Regions from separate parts of the Homo sapiens genome. Here regions 2, 3, 4, 5 and 6 are each linked to region 1. Evidence: fine-mapped expression QTL. A gene starts in region 1. Each other region holds a variant in brackets. All regions are shown on one strand. Distances are between the middles of the regions.

What was found. PIP is the estimated chance that this variant, and not a neighbour inherited with it, causes the effect. A credible set is the group of variants that fine-mapping cannot tell apart.
Region 2: its variant is the best candidate, but not a certain one, in a credible set for the expression of PI15 in nucleus accumbens (GTEx, PIP 0.69).
Region 3: its variant is the best candidate, but not a certain one, in a credible set for the expression of PI15 in thyroid (GTEx, PIP 0.58).
Region 4: its variant is the best candidate, but not a certain one, in a credible set for the expression of PI15 in prefrontal cortex (CommonMind, PIP 0.58).
Region 5: its variant is the best candidate, but not a certain one, in a credible set for the expression of PI15 in iPS cells (PhLiPS, PIP 0.64).
Region 6: its variant is the best candidate, but not a certain one, in a credible set for the expression of PI15 in subcutaneous fat (GTEx, PIP 0.72).

The regions. Positions count from the first base shown.
Region 1 is chr8:74,822,469-74,826,559 of GRCh38, reverse strand. PI15 (peptidase inhibitor 15) reads right to left here and starts at 2,026. Exons shown (of 6, transcript NM_015886.5): 1 at 1,885-2,026; 2 at 1,038-1,350. The coding sequence starts at 1,310.
Region 2 is chr8:74,458,512-74,462,602 of GRCh38, reverse strand. It overlaps a transcript of GDAP1 not described here. Among named protein-coding and RNA genes, the nearest start is that of MIR5681A, 88 kb to the left of the region's middle. The variant T/C (reference allele first, on the strand shown) is at 1,529.
Region 3 is chr8:74,548,507-74,552,597 of GRCh38, reverse strand. MIR5681A (microRNA 5681a) reads right to left here and starts at 4,055; the gene lies at 3,981-4,055. MIR5681B (microRNA 5681b) reads left to right here and starts at 3,989; the gene lies at 3,989-4,048. The variant G/C (reference allele first, on the strand shown) is at 2,493.
Region 4 is chr8:74,448,385-74,452,475 of GRCh38, reverse strand. It overlaps a transcript of GDAP1 not described here. Among named protein-coding and RNA genes, the nearest start is that of MIR5681A, 98 kb to the left of the region's middle. The variant C/AC (reference allele first, on the strand shown) is at 2,389.
Region 5 is chr8:74,601,099-74,605,189 of GRCh38, reverse strand. The region is part of intron 1 of MIR2052HG (MIR2052 host gene); the gene reads right to left. It also overlaps the pseudogene PCBP2P2. Among named protein-coding and RNA genes, the nearest start is that of MIR2052HG, 3.4 kb to the right of the region's middle. RefSeq lists an enhancer at 2,507-3,706. The variant G/TG (reference allele first, on the strand shown) is at 2,151.
Region 6 is chr8:74,632,257-74,636,347 of GRCh38, reverse strand. All of the region lies in intron 2 of MIR2052HG (MIR2052 host gene), which reads right to left. It overlaps LINC03071 (long intergenic non-protein coding RNA 3071), which reads left to right and starts at 3,016. Exons shown (of 7, transcript NR_183468.1): 1 at 3,016-3,113; 2 at 3,846-3,898. The variant C/T (reference allele first, on the strand shown) is at 2,280.

The sequences.
Region 1 (4,091 bases):
TCTAAATTGTACTTCTATGAACTGTGACTCTGTTACATCATTTAGCAAGTCTTTAGTTTTCCTGTGACATTGGCATCTGCAACTAGCCAAACTTTTTAATATAACTTATTTACATAAAACAAGTGAATCTAGAATATGATAAAAATCCCAAATTTTAATTCAGCACATATAAAACTGTTAGTGGTACCCCCTCCCCTCACCCCAATTTGGAAATACCATATTGATGGTCTTCATTGCCTTAAACAGGCTCCAAGCTGTGCTCTTGTAAGACGCTGGACTTTAAATCATAACCTTGCATAAATTCAAAACCAAATAAAAATTTTAACAAGACTTTTTCCTTTCAATACTAACTTTTTTTTTTACTTTCTAAGTAAAATGATTTAAACATTGTCTATTTTTAAGAAAGAGCAAAAAATGTGTTCACGGCAAGTTGGAACAGTGTGCAAATGCACTGGCTTCACTGTTATCTGGACAGCAAAGCATTAAATCACAAGGAGAAAAAAGTCAGCATGTTCTCTTAGAATACAAATAGGTTAGCGTCAGTAAGAACTTTGTCCAAAAAAGGGAAAAGACACCTACCCAGAGAATAAATCATGCATATGAAACCTATAATTTTAAGAAGTATTTTCAAGAAATGATATAGCTGATAAATATGACTGTGAGATAAAGCACAGAAAAAGTTCATGTGACTTTTTTTAAAGTGGACCTTCCAAATGTGATCAGTCAACATACCCCACTTTTTATCTATGATTCTTACATAAGATACAATTCACCAGTAGCTATGGAACTCACAGAAGAAAGTCTACATAGATTCTCTCTATCTGTCTGTCTCTGTCTCTCTGGACCTCTCTGTCTCTCTGATTCTGTGATGCAACAGTACTCAACATTATTAGGCACATAAGAACCTTAGGTTAAAATATGTAAAAAGTCCATATACCCGGACATATAAACACTCGTGGTCGTTTGAGATTCTGCAGATGTACAATATAAAGCTTTCTCACTCAGAACTTAAAAAAAAAAAAAAGAATTCTTCTTACCATATATTCCATATTTGCTGCCGGTGGGAACACTTTGCCCCGAACTTGATTATGATAATCAAGAATGGCGATCATGTCATTCTGCGAAATGTAGCGCTTCCGCCTGGCTTTGGGGATATCCGCTGAATCTAATTGTGCTTTCAGAGCTGCTTCAATATCAGTGAAATTATTGGTTGGCGGGGATGAGTCAGTGGAATTGAGTAGGACGACGGTACTTGCTTCACAGAGAAGGGAGAACAGGAGTGCACTGCTGACGGCAGAGATTGCTATCATTTTGAGGGGTGGAGAAGAAGAGGCCACCGAGTTTACTTTGCTTTAAAGCAGAAAGGTAGAGTTAGGGTCTATGAAAAAAAATAGGGCCAGAGGGTATGAATTTACAAAGACATCATTTGGGAGCATTGCTTGATTTGACTTTCTTCAAAAATCCAAACAAATGTTGAACTCAAGCCTAGGAGATAACCTACAGTAGAATCTCTATTCATTTTTTAGTGTCATGAGGCAGACCCCTAAGAGGAACTTTGTATAGCAGAGAAAAATAAACAGCATGACCACTAACCCTAAAATGAATGTGAACCATTTGCCCCAAATGTCTGAACCACAAAATATATTACTGCATATTTTCAGTGGGAAATTTTCAGCAATTGAAATTCACCTGGAGAGTGAAGAAAAAATGAATCACAGGTAACAACAGAGAATGTGCTGATAATGTCTGCCAGACATATAGACACACCAAGTGATAGAACACATACAAAAAAGTCATAGTAATCCAATCTCATTTCTTTAAAAAAATGTGAGCTACTTTAAAATCAATGCATGCAATATAAACTTGTTGAGCTAAATAGCTTACCTCTGCACAATGCCAAAATGAATATATTGTTCTTCCAAAAATTTAAGGTTCTTTGCTATGTGGTAGCATGAACTCTTGTAAGAGGAGTGTGTCTTTTTACAAACTCTCTGAGAGCAAAGCTCTGCAAGGTTTGAATGCTGCTGGCTAGAGGAGCAGCTAACAGCTTTTATATGTCACAGTTTGCAACGTCCAGAAAGGGCAGTCTTTCTAAGGGTCTCTCTTAGCCAAAATCAAAGGGGAGGGGTTTGGGGTAGAAAAAAACAGTGATTGGGTGGCAACCTTTTTATGTGGGTGGTGAGGAAATTGAGTCACACCCACAGCTTACAAAGTACAAGCCATAAAAGACAAACCCCTTTTTCTCTGGGCTTCCACCTTTTCTGTGAGTAATTTCTCTCATTTTATGCTTTCTAGTTCCTGGTTCCCATACAAAAAAGAAGAAACAAAGACAAAAAAAAAAAAGACTGTGGGTTCATGAAAAAACAGACAGTTGAGTAACAAGCAGTACATTTTTTTAAGACAGTAAATGACATGGGAGCTAAAAAGAACAAGCTGATATTAAATCAAGAGATCAGCTAACATAGTTAATCTGGGTGGCCACAAATATGATTCGAGAGGGATGCCAGGCAAATCGGTAGTAACCAAACTATAGCATATGATATTAGGATAATAGATGCTCAAGTGGCTGTGTTCTCTGCTTCCATGTGGCTGCATTCCTGTGCTTTATATATTTCTTCTTCTCTCTCTTATTTTACCTTCTCTCCCTTTTTTCTTTCTCTACAGAGTGAGGTCAGAAATTACTTGCTTTTTACCTGCCTTGTATAAAATGTGAATAGAGAAGCTCATGGCAAATGACAGCAGCCAAGATAACATCTGTTTCAGGTTTAGAGCATATAGTTGAAATTTTAAGCAGAGAATAGCTCAGCCTCTCAGGAAATGTATTAGAGGGCATAACACAGAGGCCATGAAGAATTTTAACAGCAGCAGCAGCTGCCAACAATTAGAAGTGCCTTGTTAGGAGGATGTCACAGGGGCAAAGTCTATGTCAGGCAAAGCAAGAAGAAGAATGTGAACATTGGTGCTCTATAATGAAAGGACCCTCCCCAAAATGCGTCATGATCTCATTAACAAAATGTGGACCACTTACAGTCAGTAGCAATAGGAATCCTGGAAAACACACGCTCTTCAGTTTAGAAACTTACTTAACTTACACTGATTTTTTCCAGCTTGCTAATGTGATTGTCTCCCACATGTTTCAGCAGAAGAAATACTATGTGAATTTACAGTCATCAGAAATGATGGTCATGTGGCACACTGGACAGGCAGCCAAGTTTCCTAGGATATATTCCCAGTTGGATCACGAGTAGTATGTGTGGTCAAATGCATACTGTTTAACTCTTCATTGGTGCACCTAAAAATGGGAGAGAAAAGATTCACGTTCTATGGTGAGACAGACATCATCAAGTTCTTTAAGAGGGTAGTGAGGTGTACCAGAGGTGTCACTAAAATTCAAACTACAGTGATGAGATACAGACTTTATAATAATATATACCAAAGTCCAGGTTTTGACACATTTTGATGACTATTCAACTCCTAACTAAAGTGAAATCATTTTAGGAGAGCCATAGCTGAAATATTGAGAGCTTTAAACAAGGAATTAATACTAAACTTGAAAAGGCATAAACAGATATATAAACTCAGGAGGTGAGCAAGGATATTATGAAACATTGGAGCAACTAGAGGAAATTCACATGGTTGTTCACAGCTGCAGATCTTAACAAGTGGAGCTGTCCAACTAGGGTTGCACCACTTTGGAAAGTATTCATGGCACCTTCAATGAATCTCAAATATGCTATATTAAGGATTCCTGAATTAAATCAGAGGTTAGATGAGAAACTCTCTGTAGGCCATCCAGCTCTAAGATCTGTGGACTTTTTGAGAAATTAGTGGCAGCACACATTAGCCTTTACTCTCTACATATCTCACACAGTTTCCCAGCTATCTGAGGAACAAAAGGACTTTTAATACCTGAACAGCAGTCATGAGCCTTTCATTCTCCAGGGTGACTGAGTTCTTGCTTAGAACCTCATAAGAATCGAAAGTTATATTTAAGACTACACCCTTTGTCATATACACAAAGAGGTATTGTCCACCTCTTGGGGTTTGACTTGAAAGATTTCCATAGGGATAAAAATGTGATGCTTGACAAA
Region 2 (4,091 bases), 360 kb after region 1:
TGATCATTAATGTCTATTTGGTAGGTACCATTTCTTCCCTACAGTGTATTTTTATAAAATTGCTTGCTTCTGCCCAATAGTCTCTAACTTACCATCAGCTGGAATGAACGATTTTTACCCTGTTCAACTCTACATGTCCCAAGGCACTAAGGAAAATAGGCTCTTCAAATGAAAACAGCTCAGACAATATTTGTTGAATTAAGTCATTAGATGTATTGAAGGAAATGCTCACAGGCCCAAGTCTCTTAAATTAATGCGAATAGCTCTTCTGTGGTAGCTCTCTGGTCCCTAAATTGATCTATTTTCTTAGTTTTCTATTATAGCTCCACTTAGAACACACAATCAATAAAAAATAAGTAGCCCAGCCCAGCCAGGAAGTACTTGACAAAAAATTAACTCTAGGCAAACAGAACTCAAGGAGTCACTATATATAGTTAAAATCACCTAGCCATATTCTTAACTCTTTTAAATCTTTATGTGTTAAAATAATAAAGTTTGTTTAGATACCATCTAACTGAAAGTTTGTTTTTATAAAATTCCATCTCTTAGTTCCATCTTTTTAAAAAAATTATTCAAGTTTTGATGTTTATTCTAAGACTCAGTGATACTATGATTTCATATACTTTTTATTGTTCATTTGCTGGAATAAAGAGAGGAAAATTTTATTCCTTAGGATGAAATGCTTTCTGCTGGAACAGAATTGTTTTTCTCATTCAAATCTTTCAGTGCTTTATGAGATTTAATGGCAATAAAATAGCTGCACCTGCATTTTTGTAGGAATGAAAAATACAAGTGAAACTGAACTGAGTTTGACCCATGGGGGTCAAACAGGAAAAATTCATTTGACACCATTAGCTTTGGGGTCCCATGTGAGCATGTAAAACACATTGTACTTCCCTGTCTGAGAGCATAATCAGAATCTATCCATACAATGCCAAACATGTGGAACATGAGCAACCCAATCAATTAGTCACCTAACATTTAGTCTGGATGATGCCAAACATCTGGATACTTGGAAATATCCAAATGAATGGGTGAACTTTTCACTTTTCTTCCGAATTTTTTTGGCAGCATATGAACACAGCCAAATGTGGGCACTTTGAATTGTGTTGTTATTTTTAGGCAACAGGTTCCAAAATCTCTTAAAAGACCTAGCTCCTCAATAGCCAAAGAAAATCTATTTACAATGCAGTCTTTCATGATTAATTTTGATAAAGAATTTATGTGTTAAAACTTACAATGGCAAAAATCAGGGTCATTAAATAATATGTATGTTTATTTAATAGGCTTTAGAGAGCAGAGCATTAATGTTCTGCTTTCCCGGGAAAGTATCTATATTAGGATAATCTGCTTAAGCTTATTATGTACCCCATTTTTAACTCAGCATGCTCCTGTGCCTATCCTCTAATCCTTTCCTTGCTGTCTCAGAGGTTTTTACAAGAGAAATGTGGGACAGATTTATGGCTAAGAGCAGAAAAATGAAGAGGGTAAGGGTGCAACGCCCAAAGGCCAAAGTGGGACAAAGCAT[T/C]GGCAGTGGCCTCAGATGCAGACTGACATCCAAGTGCTGGCAGAAGATGTTCTGTAGGGAAAGCCCAAGAGGATAGAGAATACCCTCTCCCAATACAAGGACAAAGCCTTCAGGAATGTAGACCAACTCCAAGAAAGTGGGAAGAGAAAGCAAAAAGCCCAGGGTCTGTGACTGAACATTTTAACACTGCTATTCTAATTCTCTTCCTTTTTGTCTTCTCTTCTCCTCTTTCTCCTCCACCTGTTTATCTTCCTTCTCCTCCTCTCTCTCATTCTCTCTCTCTTTCTCTGTATATTCATGTCCCCAAACATAACAGGTCAACTCCACAAATAGAACCTTTTCTTAGGACCCTACCACTCTTCATAACCACCATTCCATAGCTCATTTCTTCCTGGATTAACTCCTCAGGCCCCTGCAGGAACTTCATTGCCTATCCACTGGGCCCTCCTTTACTCCCTGCAGGCCAGTTTCTGTTCCTGCTGTTCAGTATTAGATTTTCCATTAAGCTAAGGAAGCTTAAGCTTCAGGGGCCCTCCCATAAAGGAGTCTACTAGCTGAGGCCCTGGAAGTGGCCCTGGCAATGTGTTCACATAGACATATGTTTTAGTAAAATTGGCGACATGACATGAAGTTGCAGGGTCAGAAGTTGTATTGTAATAGAGCAACTGACACCAGAATTGTGTTGAAATGGAGGAGAATCAAGATTTGGAAGGTTCAGAGCCAGAAACTAATCAGTAGAAAGTTACAAATGGAACATTCCCTTCTCATTGATGCTTAGTCAAAATAAATTTCTCCTTTATCAACAAATGCTTGATCAACATGACACATACAATTTAAGGAACATTATGTATTTCTTCCTTTTAATGGAGATCATAATGAATGAAATTAATCAGAATCCCCATTCGTGGGGCACACATCTATAGCAGTGCAATGAATACTAATATGTCTGCTTGAATTAACATGTTTTATGCATCCCAAATTATTGGATAGTATCTCAGGATATCTGATGCACTTTATCCTTATTAAAGACTAGATGTTGTACTCAATGCTGCCCACAGATTGCCACCAACACAGATAAATTGCCTGAAGAAACAAGTATTCCAGTGACAAAGCTCCTGCACATATTGCATTAGGAAGTAATCCAGTGGTGGCATAAGAGTAATTTATTCAGAATTATGTTGCTGAATATAATGTGGTTGTAATTTTAAGTACATTTGAATAGCTCCTGCGCATGCCTTAATTTCAAATTAATTTTGTACATTTTCAGAATTATTCATATAAAACATCAAATATATTCTAAAGAAGTATCCCAGTGGAAGCCAAACCTGTTAACCAAAAGAAATAAAATTGGCAGAAACTTCAAAATGTCTTTAAAGTGGAAGACAATTGTACTTTTCAATGTATAATTTGTTATTCCTTTTCTCACTCAATAAATATTCATTTTATTCCTATTCTTTTGCTTAAAGTCCCTAAATAGTATTAGTTTCTGGTTCCACAAACCCTGATTCACCCTGACTTCACCATTGCATTAGCGTTTCACAAATTGAAGTGCCAGAAGCTTCTGCCTCAGAATCACCTGGAGTGCCTGTCAAAATGCAGAATCCCAGACAAAACACTAGATCTATAGAATTACTATCCACAGAGGTCGCTCTGGGACTTGCATTTTTAAAAAGGTCTGTGTGTCATTCTTATGCACACTCAAGATTGAGAGATGCTGCTCTTTTAAAATGTTTTCTCAAAAGTGTCTGATAATCTATATCCTGCCAGCTCCCTTTCTCTAGGTCTCATTCTCCTCATTATTTCCATTATATATGACACTGATGAAGCTCTCTTTTTTTGAAAAGTAGAGCTTGTTTGAGTTATTTCTGGTACTTCTCTGCTTTTGTTTTCTTACCTCTTTTGGGCTTCCACCCACCAAGTGTTGGCACAGCACACCAGGGTCTGATTGTACCCCTCCATTTTTATGAATATTTTCTTGCCCCATTAGTGAACCAATTCACTATCAGACCCAGTTATCACCTGTATAGTTTCCAAGGGCTGCGCAAACTAATTACCAGAAACAGGGTGAGTTAAAACCACCAAAATTTTTTCTCCCATAGTCTGGAGGCCAAAAATCTGAAATTGAAATATCAGCAGGGTGTCTGGAGGCTCAGTGAAGAGCGTGCTGCTGGCCTCTTTTCTATCTTCTGTGGCTGCCTCTCAAATCCCCACCTGGTGTGTGTGCCTCAATTTCTCTCTTCTTATAAGGACACAAGTCATATTGGACTGGGGGCCGCTCTAATCCAATATGACCTCACTACAATTGATTCATCTGCAAAGACTCTATCTCCAAATAAGGTTAAATTCACAGGGTCCAGGTAGATAAGAATTTTGAGGTGACACTATTTAACCTGGTATATCATCCCTGTGGAAATGGATCCTTACAACTTGAGAACTAGTCTTGAAATGCTCCAATATCCCACTAAACTCAAGAAGAAACAAACACAATTCATCAAAGTATCTTCTTCTTTCCATTTGCTATACAAAACCATTCTTGAGTTGTGGATGGACCTTGCACTGCTTC
Region 3 (4,091 bases), 270 kb after region 1:
TAGGTGATTTGTCTAATCATATTTATTTATTTATTTTTTTATTTTTATTTTTATTTTTATTTTTTTGAGACGGAGTCTTGCTCTGTCGCCCAGGCTGGAGTGCAGTGGCACCATCTCGGCTCGCTGCAAGCTCCGCCTCCCGGGTTCACACCATTCTTCTGCCTCAGCCTCCCACGTAGCTGGGACTACAGGTGCCCGCCACCATGCCCGGCTAATTTTTTGTATTTTTTAGTAAAGACGGGGTTTCACCGTGTTAGCCAGGATGGTCTCAATCTCCTGTCCTCGTGATCCGCCCGCCTCGGGCTCCCAAAGTGCTGGGATTACAGGCGTGAGCCACCGCGCCCGGCCTGTCTAATCATATTTATTATAGATAAACCGGTAAGGGTCTCTATGGTCCTTGTATCATAGATTGGTCTCCTGCTAAAGTTACATTATTAATATGACATGGCTGCCTCTGAATCACACATAGTCCACAGCCCTGAACTTCAGCTTGTAATCATTGAGGTGCTTAAGTCCTACCACCTACATCTGTCCACCAGATTTCCCAGAATATTTGAACCATAAGCACAAATAGGATCTGATATGCAAGGACTCCAAACTTTAGTCCAATATGCTTGCCCATGTTCATTTCCCATCATTTCCTCCTAAAAATTGTATAACCTAACTACAATAGCTTCTACCATTTCTCTAAAAGCCTTGCATCATTATGCCTCTATGCCTTTGCTTACACCATTTCCTTCACCTGGAATGATGGTCGCTCCATCCAATTCATCTTTAAACCCCAGATAATGTGTCACCTGTAAAATAACCCCTGATCTGACCAAGTATAGCAGCTTGGTTATCCTGATTATTTAGCATGTATTACATTGTACGTTTAATTGTTCAGGTTAGTCTCTTCCATGAAACTGCATATTTCCTAAAGACAGGGAATGTGTCTTATGTTTGTAAACACAAGATCTACCTTAATCATAGACAGTACTCAACATTATTTGTTGAATTGATTTGAAATTGTATTGTCATAAATTCAGAAGAACTGTCCAAATTCTATTGCCAGCATTTGGTTACAATAAATTTTTTACAAGACCAATGTATATAGCTTGTTGCTATCTGGAGATTTTTAGGAATATGAAATTTTGCATAAGCAGATTTGATACTGAGGCATATAACAGAGGCCACCAAATTTTGTATTAAAGGAGGAGACCTCACAGCAAAGGGGGAAGGTTCCATGAAGCTACCAGCAACTTGACCTTCTCTATTGAGTAACCTCTACAGTCCTCCAGTGGAACAGGGGCAGGACCGTGATCTTTAATACACTTAAAAAGCAGCAAGGTATAATGAGTAATTTACCAAGGCCATAGTTTCTATCTGGAAAGAAAGCATGGAGTTTGGGGAAGTATATGGGATTTAGAGTTAGAAGGTCTGTGTCCTTAGCCCCAGTGACAGGATTTTTTTCAATCCTCTTTGGTGGGAAATGGTCTAAGTTAGTCACTGAACCTTCCATTACATAAACTAAAGGGGATGATAATACCCATCTCACCTATTTCATAGGAATTTTATTAAAATCAAATGAAGTTGCAAGCAAAATCCACCTTGTAAAACAAAATCAATGAGTCGTCACTGAATAATTGTAAAAACACAACTCTGTCCTACATGAAACCATGCCTACAAGTGAACATTTTTCTCATTACTAGAAAAGTCACTCTCAAATTTTAAACACAAATGTAGAAATAAAAATGCTTTTACTAGCTAGCCATTTTAGAGAGATTTTTAAAAGTATATTTACCCTAGACCTGAGAAACATTTCATATAGTCAGATATTTTCAATGCATGCCCAAGTATTTACTGGTAATTTCATGTCAGGTAGTTAAAAATCTGCAAAAGACATCAGTATTTATTGAGCCCTTAATATGTGAGAAGTGCCAGGAATATGACAGTGAACAAGATAGTTCACTTCCTGACTTCATGAAGTTTACAGAATAATGGGGATACACATAGGTAAATAGAATTCTTAAATCCTTATATTTTGTTTTACTTTTACTGGAAAAAAAAGAGTGATTTAATATTAGTACTTCATAAACTGCTAAACTGACAACTAAGTTGCACAAAAAAATCAAAGAGGTGGCAGCCAGGATTGTAAAAGTTGCCTAAAGGTCAGCCAGAGGCAGCCATTGCTGACTTGGAGTGGCTGTAGCATTCTGAAAGAATCCTGTACTTCAAACACCCTTTCTTACCTGCTTGCTGAGTGGTTTCCATGCAACGTATTTGAAAAGATTCAAGAAATTTATGCACAAAAAAGGAAAAAGAATCCACTGCATCTTTTCCTCAGTTTTAGTTCCAGGTCTTCCTCTAACAAGATGTGTGATGTTGGGCAAATCATGTAACTTCCCTGACCCTCAGTTCTCATAAAAATTGTAGTTTTGACTAAATGATTGTAACTCTCCTAGTTCTAGTGTCTAGTTGTCTCTCTCTTATTTAAATTGGAAGTTGGTATA[G/C]AGAATTAGAAGAAAACTTCAAAGTACTATAATAAATAAAAGATATAGGAATCCCCAGAACTCACAATAAATTCTAATACCATTATCATAAAGATGATACCAAAAGTATTGTTTCTTATAATGTGTATATTCTCTCCTTTTATCATAATTACTAAAAATATTGTATTATAGATCCTTAGCCCATTACTTCCAGCAATACACTGTATATAATTTCCCAGATAATGTGCAAAGTGTTTTTTCACCCTTTTTCCAGAAGCATGGCGATAAATGTAATTAATACAAAATGTTTTAAAACAAATAACTTTTAAAAAAAATTACTTTAGGCCAGGTGCAATGGCTCACGCCTGTAATCCCAGCACTTTGGGAGGCCAAGGTGGGCAGATCACGAGGTCAGGAGATGGAGACCATCCTGGCTAACATGGTGAACCCCATCTCTATTAAAAATACAAAATATTAGCCAGGCGTGGTGGTGCACACCTGTAGTCCCAGCTACTTGGGAGTCTGAGGCAGGAGAATTGCTTAAACCCGGGAGGCAGCGGTTGCAGTGAGCCAAGATTGCACCACTGCACTCCAGCCTGGGTGACAGAGCAAGAGTCCACGTCAAAAAAAAAAAAAATTACTTTTACTACAAGCAAACCCTGAAGCATCCTGGACAGTCTTGACCTGTGAGATACCCTCTTACTTCCACAGTCATGGAAACTATGCATTTTCCAGATGGCATATAAGACCCGATACCTATGTTTTTCTAGAATCCCTTTGCAGTGGACTTTTCTTCTTCCTAAGGCCCATGGTGCGTGCATGGTCTCTAATGAACAGATGGCACTTGGTCCCTGGATGAGCTCTTGTACCTGCAAATCTTGAGAGCTTGGAGACAAGCAAGAAAATCATTTCAGACCCTCTCCTCCACTGTCAGCACCACTTCCCCACCCCTTTCACCTTGATCTGCTTGGTTTTGTGTTTTTGGGAAAACCCACTAGTTATTGGTCACTACCTGCTCACAAGTCAATGTAATGCTCCCCGTCTTGTTTCCATCTTGGTTTTCCTTTGTTTAAGAGGATGAAGCCACTTAGGACCCCTATATGAATGAGACTTGTTTGGTTGAAAGTTGACCCAAAGTAATAAGTGGTTTATTGTAAAGAGGAAAGAGGTCTATAAATAGAAAACCCTGGGGGACTGAGGCTGGCCTCAGGACCAGGGAATAGCAGAACACAAGTGTGCAAGTCAGAGAACTAGCCAAGAGTTTATAATCAAGCTTCTAAACAGGAAGTCTCAATTCAACTTCAAAAATTACTTTATAAAGAATTCAAGTGCCATGAAGGCATGTTTTAACTTGGCTTCTTTGGCTCAGAATAGTGTATATTGGTATCTCTAGTGGCTATCCCCTTCCCATTGTTAAAAACAACATGTGAAAAATCCTACAAAATAGGTAAAACACATTTTAAAGTGCCATTGACTGCTGAGGCAACTCACTTAATATCAACAAGTCTCAGTTTTTGGAAGAGGTATTGCCACCCTTTCTAGTCTAATAGGGACTAGAAAGGGTGGCAATACTCTTCAAAAACTTCACAAGGAAGTTGTAAGGAATATATGAGATCATCT
Region 4 (4,091 bases), 370 kb after region 1:
GTAATGGTAATAAAATAAAATGAAGAGTCTCAGTAGTCCATGGGAAAATATCAAATGGCCCAATTTATGTGTAATTAGAAATCCATGCATTGAAGAAAGAGAAACATGGACCAAAAAAACAATACTTGAGGAAATAATGGCCAAAATAGTCACAAATGTAGCGCAAAATATTGGCTTAAAGAACAAAGTTCATAGACTTTCAAGCAGTATAAAAATAAAGAACAGCAGCTGGGCGAAGTGGCTCATGCCTGTAATCCCAGCACTTTGGGAGGCCGAGGTGGGCAGATCACAAGGTCAGGAGATCAAGACCACCCTGGCTAACACAGTGAAACCCCATCTGTACTAAAAAATACAAAAAATTAGCCGGGTGTGGTGGCGGGCGCCTGTAGTCCCAGCTACTTGGGAGGCTGTGGCAGGAGAATGGCGTGAACCCGGGAGGCAGAGCTTGCAGTGAGCCGAGATCGCGCCACTGCACTCCAGCCTGGGCGACAGAGCAAGACTCCGTCTCAAAAATTAAATTAAATTAAATTAAATTAAATTAAATTAAATTAAGAAAATAAAGAGCAGCATACCAAGGCACATTTATGTCAACTGCTATAAAACAAAAGCACAAAGGTAATCTTTTAAAAAGTCAGAAGAAAAAAGACACATGCACTTATGGTTACATCAGTAGGAATGACTGCTGTATTATCCAGAACAATGGAGGCCAGAAGAAAAAAAAAAATCTATCTTTTTCCATTACTGAAAGAAAAGGCTGTCAACATAGAATTCTATACCAGTGAAAGCATCCATCAAAAAAGAATGTGAACTAAGGATATGTTAAGATAAACAAAAAACAGAAGGCTTCATGCCAATACATCTAAATTTTTTACAAACACAAAGAAAGTTATTTAAGTTAAAAGGATATGAAACCAAATGGAAACTCAGGTCTATAAAAAAATTTTTTTAATGGTAAAAATGTACTTAAATAAAATAACCTTTGTTCTTCTCTTAACTCCTTTCATTTCCTTTTTTTTTTTTTTTTCTGAGACAGGGTCTCACTCTGTCGCCTAGGCTAGAGTGCAAGGGCACGATCTTGGCTCACTGCCACCTCCACCACCTGGGTTCAAGCGATTCTCCTGCCTCAGCCTCCTGAGTAGCTGGGATTACAGGCATGCATCACCATGCCCGGCTAATTTTTGTATGTTTAGTAGAGACAGGGTTTCACCATGTTGGCTAGGTTGGTCTCAAACTCCTGGCCTCAAGTGATCCACCCGCCTCAGCCCCCTAAAGTGCTAGGATTACAGGCATGAGCTACCATGCCCAGCCTCTTAATTTCCTTAAAGCAAAATTTGTTGATTTGCATAAACTTACAACATTTAAGATTTGTGTGTAACAGATGTAGATATAAAATGTATGACAAAAAGGATGGATGTAGATAGAGCTATATCATTAAAAATGTCTTACATTTTAAATGAAGTCAGTAAAATATTAACTCCAATCAGCAAAGAGGCATTGGTAATCTCTAAAGAAAACAGTAAAAAAGTAATGCAAATTTGATAGATAGATATTTTTAAATAGTTATAATTAAAATAAATTTAATAATTAAATAGAATGCTAAAATAATTTGATTATCCCCAAAGAAAAAGAGAACATAAAAAGGAAAAAAAATACATTATTCAAATAAACAATAGGAAACGGTGGACATAAATCCAAACATATCAGTAATTATATTAATGTAAATAAACTAAAAGCTGCAATTAAAAGAGATTGCCAAATCAAATATCTAAAAAGTACAACTACAAGATATATACTTTACAGATAAAATCACATAAGTAAAACATAAAAAGATGGAAAGAATATTCCAGGCAAATGCTAAGCCAAGGAAACTGAAGTGGTTACATCAATATAAAAAAGTAGACTTCAAAATACTACCAGAGAAATGTGTATGTGTCTAATATGCATTTAATACATCTAATATACAGTCATTCAAATCCATAAAACAAAAATTAACAGACCTCAAGGGACAAAAAAGATCACATTCAGAATTGAATATTTTAATACATCTCCTTCAGTAATTGATAGATCACCTAGAAAAAAAATCAGTAGATATATAAACCACTTCAACAATACTATAAATGATCTTTATCTAACATTTATAGAACATTAAAACTACATCTCCAAAATATACACATTATTTTTGAGTGCTTATCAGATGCTCACAAAGATGGACTATATCTTAGGTAATAAATGTAATACATCTTAATAAATGCCCAAAGATTAAAATCTTACAGAACACGTTATCTAACAACAGTGGAATTAAATGGGAAGTCAATAATAAAATATATATTTAAACCGAATATGTGGAAATTGAACAAGACACATATAAATAAACCATGAAAAAAAAAC[C/AC]AAAGGAAATATTTCAAACTGAATAATGATAAAACACAACATATCCATTTTCTGGATCCAGCTAAAGTAGTATTTTAATGGGAATGTATCATTTTTTATTTCTACATCTGAAAAGTAGAAATTTCTAAAATTGTTTTCATTCATTTACTCACAGAATAAAGCAGAAAACCATATGATCACCTAAAAGATGCAGACAAAACCATTTAACACTCATTTATTATTTAAAATTAAACTCTTGGCAAACCAGAAACTTAAAGAAATTTTACAACATTCTACTTGAAATTTTAACAAAGCAATAAGGAAAGAAAACAAAAAAAGTCAAACTAATTAAAATAGGCCAAAAACTGCCCTTATTCACAGATGACATGATTCTGCACATAAAAATACAAAAACAGTGACTATAATTAATATATGAGCTTAGTAAAGTTGCAGGATACACTTACCAATACTGTGCCATATTGAAAAATAAAATTTGTGAGCAATTACATTTATAACAAAATTTAATAACATAAAAAACATAAAATACTTGGGAATAAATTTAACAAAGATATGCAAATTCTCTGAACTAAAAACTACAAAACACTGTTTAGAAAAATCTAAGACCTAAATAAATGAAGATATATACCATGTTCATGAATTTGAAGAGTCAGTATTGTTAAGATAGTTCTTCCCAAATTGATCTATAAATTCAATGTAACTCCTATCAAAATCTAAAGAGGTTTTCAAATATAAACTGACAATGAGAATTATATTTAAACACAGAAGAGCTTGTATGTCAAAACAATCATGAAAAAGAATAACAAAGTTGATTCAACTTTGATTTTTAGAGTTACTTTTCAGCTATAGTAATCAACACGGTGAATTAGGATCATAAATATAAGCAAATAGATCAATAAAATAGAACACAACCCAGAAACAGATTCAAACATATATAGTCAATAGATTTTTGACAAAAATGTTAAGATTATTCACTGGGGAGGAAAGGTTTTTTAATAAAAGATACTGGAAGACCCAGATAAATACATAGAAAAAATTAAACCTTGGAGCCTCCTTCACACCATACACAAAACTTACTTGAAGTTGCCTAAATGTAAAAATAAAAACTATAAAACTTCTAGAGGAAAACAATACAGTAACACAGTAAGCAAATTAGCACTGAACACTTTTTAATTGCTAATTTGGACTTCATAAAATTAAAATGTCTAATAATCAAAAGCCATAATTAAATATATGAAAAGCCCCACACATTGAGAGAAAATACTTGTAATGCATATATCTGACCAAAAAACTCCTACAATCAACTAACAGACTACGTAATTCTTAAAATAAGTCAGGACATGAAAGACCACATTGTATGTGACATTCAAAAGGCCAATAAGCACATGAAAAGGTTCTCAAAATCAAGGAAAGTCATCAGGGAAAGGCCAAGTAAAACCACAATTAGATAACATTTTACATCCACTAGATTGGCTAACAACAGTAAAACGAACAACAATAAAATGTTAGTGAGGACATGGAGCAACTAGAACACTCATTCACTACTAGGGAGAGTGTACACTGGTAAAACACTTTACAAAATTATTGTTAGTTTCATTGTAAATATCAAAGAGAAATGAAAATACATGTCCAAAAAAAGAACATGCATCACAGCTTTCTTTCAAAACTACCAAAACTAATGTCCAAATGTCTGTCAACAGGAGACC
Region 5 (4,091 bases), 220 kb after region 1:
ACCACAGACTCTGCATCTTTGATGAGGGGAGGAAGGCGGGGTCCTAAGGAACCCAAAAAGAAGAGCTGTCTTCTAGAGAAATGAAGTTAGGGTGCAACAAGGGCCCATGTGACTGATAATCATGAAGGGCAGAATATGGGTCTTAAGACACAGTGACAAAAAACAATCAGTCATTTTGTTACCAGAAAGCCATTCTGATCCAGACCCTAAGGGACAGTTATTGAATCTCATGCAAGAAATTCAGGATGAGCTCACAGGGTAAAGTGAAAGCAAGTTAATTAAAGAAGTAAAGAAACGGCCGGGTGCGGTGGCTCACGCCTGTAATCCCAGCACTTTCGGAGGCTGAGATGGAAGGATCACTTGAGGTCAGGAGTTCAAGACTAGCCTGACTAATGTGGTGAAACCTCGTCTCTACTAAAAATACAAAAATTAGCCAGGCATGGTGGCACATGCCTGTAATCCCAGCTACTAGGGAGGCTGAGGCAGGAGAGTCGCTTGAATCTGGGAGACGGAAGTTGCAGTGAGCCAAGATCGCGCCATTGCACTCCAGCCTGGGCAACAAGAGCAAGACTCCGTCTCAGAAAAAAAAAAAAAAAAAAAAAAAAAGTAAAGAAACAAGGCCGGCCCAGAGCAGCTTGAGCAGCCGCAGTCTGCACCCTCTCCCGCCCGCCCGCCCTCCACGGCACCCCCACCCGCCCCGGGGTCTCTTTCCCCCTTCCTCCTCCTCCTCCTCCACCCCACCTTCCTCCTCCGCCCGCCCGCGGGGCCCCCCCTCACCTTCCCGCCTGCCCCTATTGTTCCGCCCCCGGCCTCCCGCCCTTCCCCTTCCAGCCCATTCCCCTTTTCCCCTCAGTCGCCTCGCGCCAGCAGTTTTTGGCTTTCACCCCCCATCAGTGACCAAAGACTTGACCACTCAAAGTCCAGCTCCCCAGAACACTGCTCGACATGGAAACCAGTGTGATTGAAGGTGGATTAAATATCACTCTCACCATCCGACTACTTATGCATGGAAAGGAAGTTGGCAGTATCATCGGAAAGAAAGGAGAATCAGTTAAGAAGATGCGCGAGGAGAGTGGTGCACCTATCAACATCTCAGAAGGGAATTGTCCTGAGAGAATTATCACTTTTGCTGGACCTGCTAATGCCGTCTTCAAAGGCTTTGCTATGATCATTGACAAACTGGAAGAGGACATAAGCAGCTCTATGACCAGTAGCACAGCTGCCACTAGACCCCCAGTCACCCTGAGGCTGGTGGTCCCTGCTAGTCAGTGTGGCTCTCTCATTGGAAAAGGTGGTTGCAAGATCAAGGAAATACGAGAGAGTACAGGGGCTCAGGTCTAGATGGCAGGGGATATGCTACCCAACTCAACTGAGCAGGCCATCACTATTGCTGGCATCCCACAATCCATCATTGAGTGTGTCAAACAGATCTGTGTGGTCATGTTGGAGTCCCCCCCGAAGGGCGTGACCATCCCGTACCAGCTCAAGCCTTCCAGCTCTCCGGTCATCTTTGCAGGCGGTCAGGCCTATACCCTTCAAGGACAGTTTGCCATTCCACAGCCAGATTTGACCATGCTGCACCAGTTGGCAATGCAACAGTCTCATTTTCCCATGACGCATGGCAACACTGGATTCAGTGCAGGTTTGGATACATCTGCTCAGACTACTTCTCATGAACTTACCATTCCAAACGATTTGATTGGCTGCATAATCGGGCGTCAAGGCGCCAAAATAAATGAGATCCGTCAGATGTCTGGGGCACAGATCAAAATTGCGAACCCAGTGGAAGGATCTACTGATAGGCAGGTTACCATCACTGGATCTGCTGCCAGCATTAGCCTGGCTCAATATCTAATCAATGTCAGGCTTTCCTCGGAGACGGGTGGCATGGGGAGCAGCTAGAACAATGCAGATTTATCCACAATCCCTTTCTGCTGTTCACCACCACCCATGATCCATCTGTGTAGTTTCTGAACAGTCAGCGATTTCAGGTTTTAAATAGTTTGTAAATTTTCAGTTTCTACACACTTTATCATCCACTCGTGATTTTTTACTTAAAGTGTTTTAATTCCTTTCTCTGTTCAGCTGTTGGTGCTGAGATCCATATTTAGTTTTATAAGCTTCTACCTGGGATTTTTTTTTTTTTTTTT[G/TG]GTGTTTTGTTTTGTTTTGTTTTGTTTTGGCTCATGAATTTTTCTGTCTGTCATGGAAATGTTAAGAATGGAATATTAATACATTTCAGTTTAGTACTGTAAAGTCAGGAATTTTTCAAAAAAATTTAAAAATGGACTGGAGCTTTTTCTTTGTGAATAGAAAAAAGAAAGAAAGAAAGAAAGAAAGAAAGAAAGAAAGAAAGAAAGAAAGAAAGAAAGAAACACGGCCGGGCATGGCAGCTCACATCCATAATCCCAGCACTTTGGGAGGCCGAGGCAGGTGGATCACAAAGTCAGGAGTTTGAGACCAGCCTGGCCAACATGGTGAAACTCCGTCTCTGCTTAAAAAAAAATACAAAAATTAGCCAGGCATGGTGGCATGTGCCTGTAATCCTAGCTACTTGGGAGGCTGAGGCAGGAGAATTGCTTGAACCCAGGAGGCAGAGGTTGCAGAGAGCCGAGATCGCGCCACTGCACTCCAGCCTGGGCAATGGAGCAAGACTGTCTCAAAAAAAAAAAGAAAGAAAGAAAAGAAACACAAGAATGGCCACTCCATAGGCAGAGTAGCTGTTGGTTGTCTATTTTTATGGTTATTTCTTGATCATATGCTAAACAAGGGATGGATTATTCATGAGTTTTCTGGGAAAGGGGCAGGCAATCTCTGGAACTGATGGTTCCTTCCCTTTTTAGACCATATAGGGTAACTTCCATACCTTGCCACGGCATTTGCAAATTGTCATGATGCTGGCAGGAGTATCTTTTAGCATGCTAATGCATTATAATTAGCATCTAATAAGCAGTGAGGATGATCAAAGGTCACTTTCATCACCATCTTGGTTTTGGAAGGTTTTGGCAGGTTTTGGCCAGCTTCTTTACCACATCCTGTTTTATCAGCGGGAGCTTTGTAACCTGTATCTTGTGCTAACCTCCTACCTCATTCTGTGACTAAGAGTGTCTAACCTCCTGGGAATGCAGCCCAGTAGGTGTCAGTCTCATTTTACCCAGACCCTATTCAGGATGGAGTCTCTCTGGATTGAACACTTTTGACAATTTCAAGTGTGAAAACTAATTAAAATTTACTAGAGTAGAAGTTCTAAAATACAGGCATTGACTTGTGAATAATCTGCTTTTCACTTGGACAGTGAAGTATGATTCTAGGGGAGAAGATAATGAGATTTATTCACTTAAATATGATTAATAATGCTCCTGAGTAATGTAAGACAAGCCAGTCAGAATCTGGTATTAGTAAGTACAGTCAGCTAATGCCAGCTCACCATCAAATCAAGTATCAATTAAATGTTTACTGTGTTGATATTTTGCTGTAGCCTAAGGGATACAAAAAATAGTAATACTGAGCTCTTATCCTAAAATATGCTATGATTTAGTGGAGAAAACAAGAAAGGTTTTGTACACATATTAGGAATTAACTATTTGTCAAAAAAGCATTAATCAATATAATTCAATATAAAGTTTGATCAATATTATACCAGAAGATCCTTGGGCAAATGGAACTGAGAGAGATTTACTCCTATTGAAGACACTGAAGAAAACTTCCTAAAGAACTGGGCCTTGGAATGTGGGGTGATTTTAACACGTACAGATGAGGGAGTCAAGCAGTCTCTGTAGGAGACAGGAAAATGTATGCCACTCACAGCCTACCCCTTATGTTATGGGCACACTCTCTTATACAGAATAGCATGAACAAAGACACCAAAATGAGAACAAGAAGAACAAGTTCCAGGAATGGCAATTCCAGTTGGAGTGCTTTGAGACATAATAAATTTGATAAAGCTTGAATGATTACAGACAAATGGTAGTGGACTATGAATTTAAGAATAAGAGGTTTGGCCTCTGCAGTAAAGATGCTTATATAAATACAAATAATTAAGAAGAAATTGAGGAAAGAAAACAAATTGGCTGAGTTCCTAGCCAACCTGACTG
Region 6 (4,091 bases), 190 kb after region 1:
AATTCAAGGACAAAAATTTGCAGAATTGGTGGATTATTGGAGCACCACACAGTGATAAATACATTAAAGGCTATCATCCCAGCAGGACTTGGAACAAGGTAAAGTCTACAGAAAGGTAAGTAAAGAACAGGTCAACTTCTGAACCTTCTGGATCCCCCTCTAGAAGAAACAAAATGAAATTACTCCAATTATTTTCGGACACTGAGGCCAAGCGTGGCTTACTAAGTTCTAAAATGGTGTCTCACCCCTCATGGAAAGAAAAAAGAACTGAAATAGAGGCAACTGAGGACATCTTGGAGGACAAGACATGAGCCAGGAAGGGGGCCTGACACAGAAACAGAGATAAGGAAAGAAATGATGAGTTTGTTTGCTCTTTCTGTGAAAGTTTTAATTCCCACATTTCCATTACTTAATATGTCATTATTTTACTTTTCAGAAATTGGCAAACCAAAAGCATTCCACCATTTATTTTAAAACTTGTAGTCAACACACATCAGACTTTTATATTGCCTCAAATAAAAATTCTCTAAAGAATCAAATCTAAAGCTGTGCTATAAATTTCCCTGGGGAAGTTAATCCTAAAGTTCTTAGACATCAATATATGCTCCTGACCAAAGGTTGGATTTCAGAGGTCATGATGACATAGATTGATAAAATCCTGCTGCGTAATCCAGCCACGAATTACGTGTTGACATTGATAAGCAACATTTTTCATTGCCTATTAAATAAAGGTCAAATTCTTCAGCCTGGCATTAAAGATGACCCCAGTTTGAATTTCGAACTTTATTTCCCTCGACTCTAGCCAAGTGGAACAAATTGTGTTCTGTGCATGTCCTTTAATTTATTGTCTTTATGGTTTTGCTTACAGCTCCTTTCACTTGTAATTCTCTTTCTTTCTATATCTGTGGATCCCAAACTTATCCAGTAATTAAGGACCAGTGCAAATGACATCTCCATTGGGCCTCCAAATACCCAAAGAGCTGAAAATGTACTCTTTCAAATATCTCCTAGACACCTGACAAACTTCATCTCATGTTATATTTATTTATGTATGTTTAATGCAATTCACTAGAGGTAAACCTTCCTGACGGTAAAAAAAAAAAAAAATCTGTTTTTGTGCTTTCTGTACCTAATATAGTGATTTGCACATAATAGGTACCCATAAATATTTCATAATTCTACAATTGTGGAACTGTTATAAGTATTCAGTCAAATGAGACCATAATACCCTTTTGGTATGCTGTTCTCCCTTTTTCTCACATTTCCATTCACCCCCAACCCCCCAAATTTCTCTAAAATCCTAATAAGTCATTTTCACTGTAACTTACCTTGTTCTTCATGGAATTATTAGATAAAAATTAGACTAATGAATATACATTTTCCTTCTTTTGAATAAAAATAAGCCATATTCCTGACATAATGTCCATATCTGACATTCAATAAATAATTGAGGAAAGAGTGGATCAATTAATCAATCAATCAATTGCCCTGCCAAAATCTCAGTGAATCTAGCATGACTAGCATAAAGCTATGGACCCCTCAGATTTCGTTGTCCGTTTCTGTCTTGCGATACCTATGAAGTAGTGGTAGATGTCTCCTGATTGTATACAGTGGTCTTATAAATTGAATAAGAGCAGTGTATTAACAGATTACATGATGTTGCTTCCTTAAAGATAATGTCTTTACTCACTCATGGTAACAAAAGTGTAATTTTGACTATATTAAGCCATATAAGTCCCCAAGGGGACTCATCCCAAGATTAAGCACTGAGTAAATATTACAATAATTGCTGCTGCTACTTGAAAACGATAGTAAAACTCAAAAAAAAATTTAAGGTGAAAATGTATTAAGAATGTATTAAGAAATTATTTTGCAAGAGTTCTAAATTATGACAGCTTATAAGTAAAGATACAGGTGACGGGTTATAATCTGTCAAATACTACATGATGTCAGCAACAAGTTTCTCCTGCCTTTGGCCCGACTATTTGGGCATAGGTTGTCTATGTAAACCTCTGCCTTGTTGTCTCTGCCTCAATTAATAGCTTACTAATACACTGGTAATCTGGTCTTTCTAATTCTGGGAACTGGCAAGTCTTTTCAATCCCTTTCTCCAACCTAAACTGAAATCTCTTTCCTGAATGCCTGTTCTAAGTATTGCTAGTTCCTGAATTCTCCAATAGCATGCCCTCCCTACATTTCAGGAAGCCTAAATCTGAAGAGCAAGCATGCTTTCTACAAGTGTTAGAATAGATAGTAAAATGAGAATCAAGCCTCTCCAC[C/T]TTACTGAAATAACTTAATGTCCTCCTCCTCCTCCATTAGGCTCCCAGATATTTGAGGAAAGAAACTATTAATTTAACTTTCATTCTCCCTCTTAAAAGAGGCTCGGTACATCTAATGTGCCCAGTGATTGTTGAATAAGCCAATGAAAGACTGCATTAACCAACTTAGAAATGTACAAACCATTCTTAAGTTTACAGAGCATTATATCTCCATTATGTTCTTCATCCTTGTAGTAGTCAAAGGCTCATAGTTACATCTCTGAATGTCTTTATAACCAGCCAATTGCATACCAATACATCTATCAGGACAATCAACAATATAAGCCTAGAACTAAGTTACTATCTTTAGCGTACTCAGCATCAATGCTGAGTGCAGCCCCAATGAACAGTACACATGCAAACAAATACCTAAACAGATGTAACAGAACTAGTAGTACATTGAGCCTAGGAAACGCATAACAAGTACAACTCATGCAAGTGACATGACAATGCTAGAAATCAATCTCTGCCGTCATTTAGCAAGGTAAGATGGCATTCTGAGGAGGAGCCTTGTGATTAGGGAATGGGAATAAGCCAGAACAACAGCAACAACAAAAGTAGCTTGTGAGTACCTGGTACCAGAGTGCTGACTTTTTCTTACTTGTGCCTGACAAGTCATAATGCCTAAGAACTACCACCAGGGGTGTCACAATGGAGAGTAACGTACACTAGAAGCACCTAATGAGGAATTAAGAGTGGGATGTGTGCTGGAAAGGGTTCACACATATAATCCCAGCACTTTGGGAGGCTGAGGTAGGAAGATCGCTGGAACCCAGGAGTTCAAGACCATCCTGGGTAATATGAAGAGACCCTGTCTCTACAAAAAAACAAAAAAGAAAACCATTAGCCAGGGGTGGTGGCACATGCCTGTGGTCCCAGCTACTCAGAAAACTGAGGTGGGAGGACTGCTTGAGCTTGGGAGGTTGAGGCTGCAGTGAGCCATGATCAAGCCACTGTACTACAGTCTGGGCAACAAAGCAAGACCCTGTCTCAAAACAAACAAACAAACAAACAAATAAAAGAGTAGGATATATCATATAGTCATGGGAGAGGAATTATCAAAGTTGAGTCCTGAAGGTTGAACCAGACTAGTGAGGAGTGGTGAGATGAGAGCCAGAAAACAGAGACAGCCTGGGAGTCATTGGCTATATCATAAAACAGAGACTATTATAAAAACAGTGAGGTAGGGGTCCGATCAACACGAGCTGATTATGCCAAGATAAGAAGTTTGTCTTCAGAGAAAAGAGCCATGTATAATATTTCTTCCAGTTCCCATGATAATTATCTCACCCAGGGAAATGGGGAAAGGCTAGCACTGGCAACCTAAATATTCAGAATTACATACAGAATATTGGTGAAGGATAACATTAAAGTCATACCAAATATATTTACATTTAGATGTTGTATGTGTTTTACTTTCAAATATGCAGCAAATTATAATTTTTAAGCCTGAAGTTTAAAATGCTTTTATTTCCAGAATTAATATAACTTTTTTCTCCCTAAGTAAGTTTTTTTTTCAATCCCTAGGTAAGATAACAGCACCTCAGAGAAGATTTGGAAAATAAATGAGCTGATGAGAGGTAAGTATAGCACTCAGGGAGAGACACGGGCCAAGCAGGCTCTCCCCTGAAAGAAACTGCGGGGCCACTATAGGATAATAAGCCCCAATCACAAACGCAGGCTCTGGTGGCCACACATCCTGCTGGTGGCACCCTGAGACCAAACTTGCTCCTCTGGATCTCCCTGGCGAGAGTCTTGGAGAAACCTGTGCAG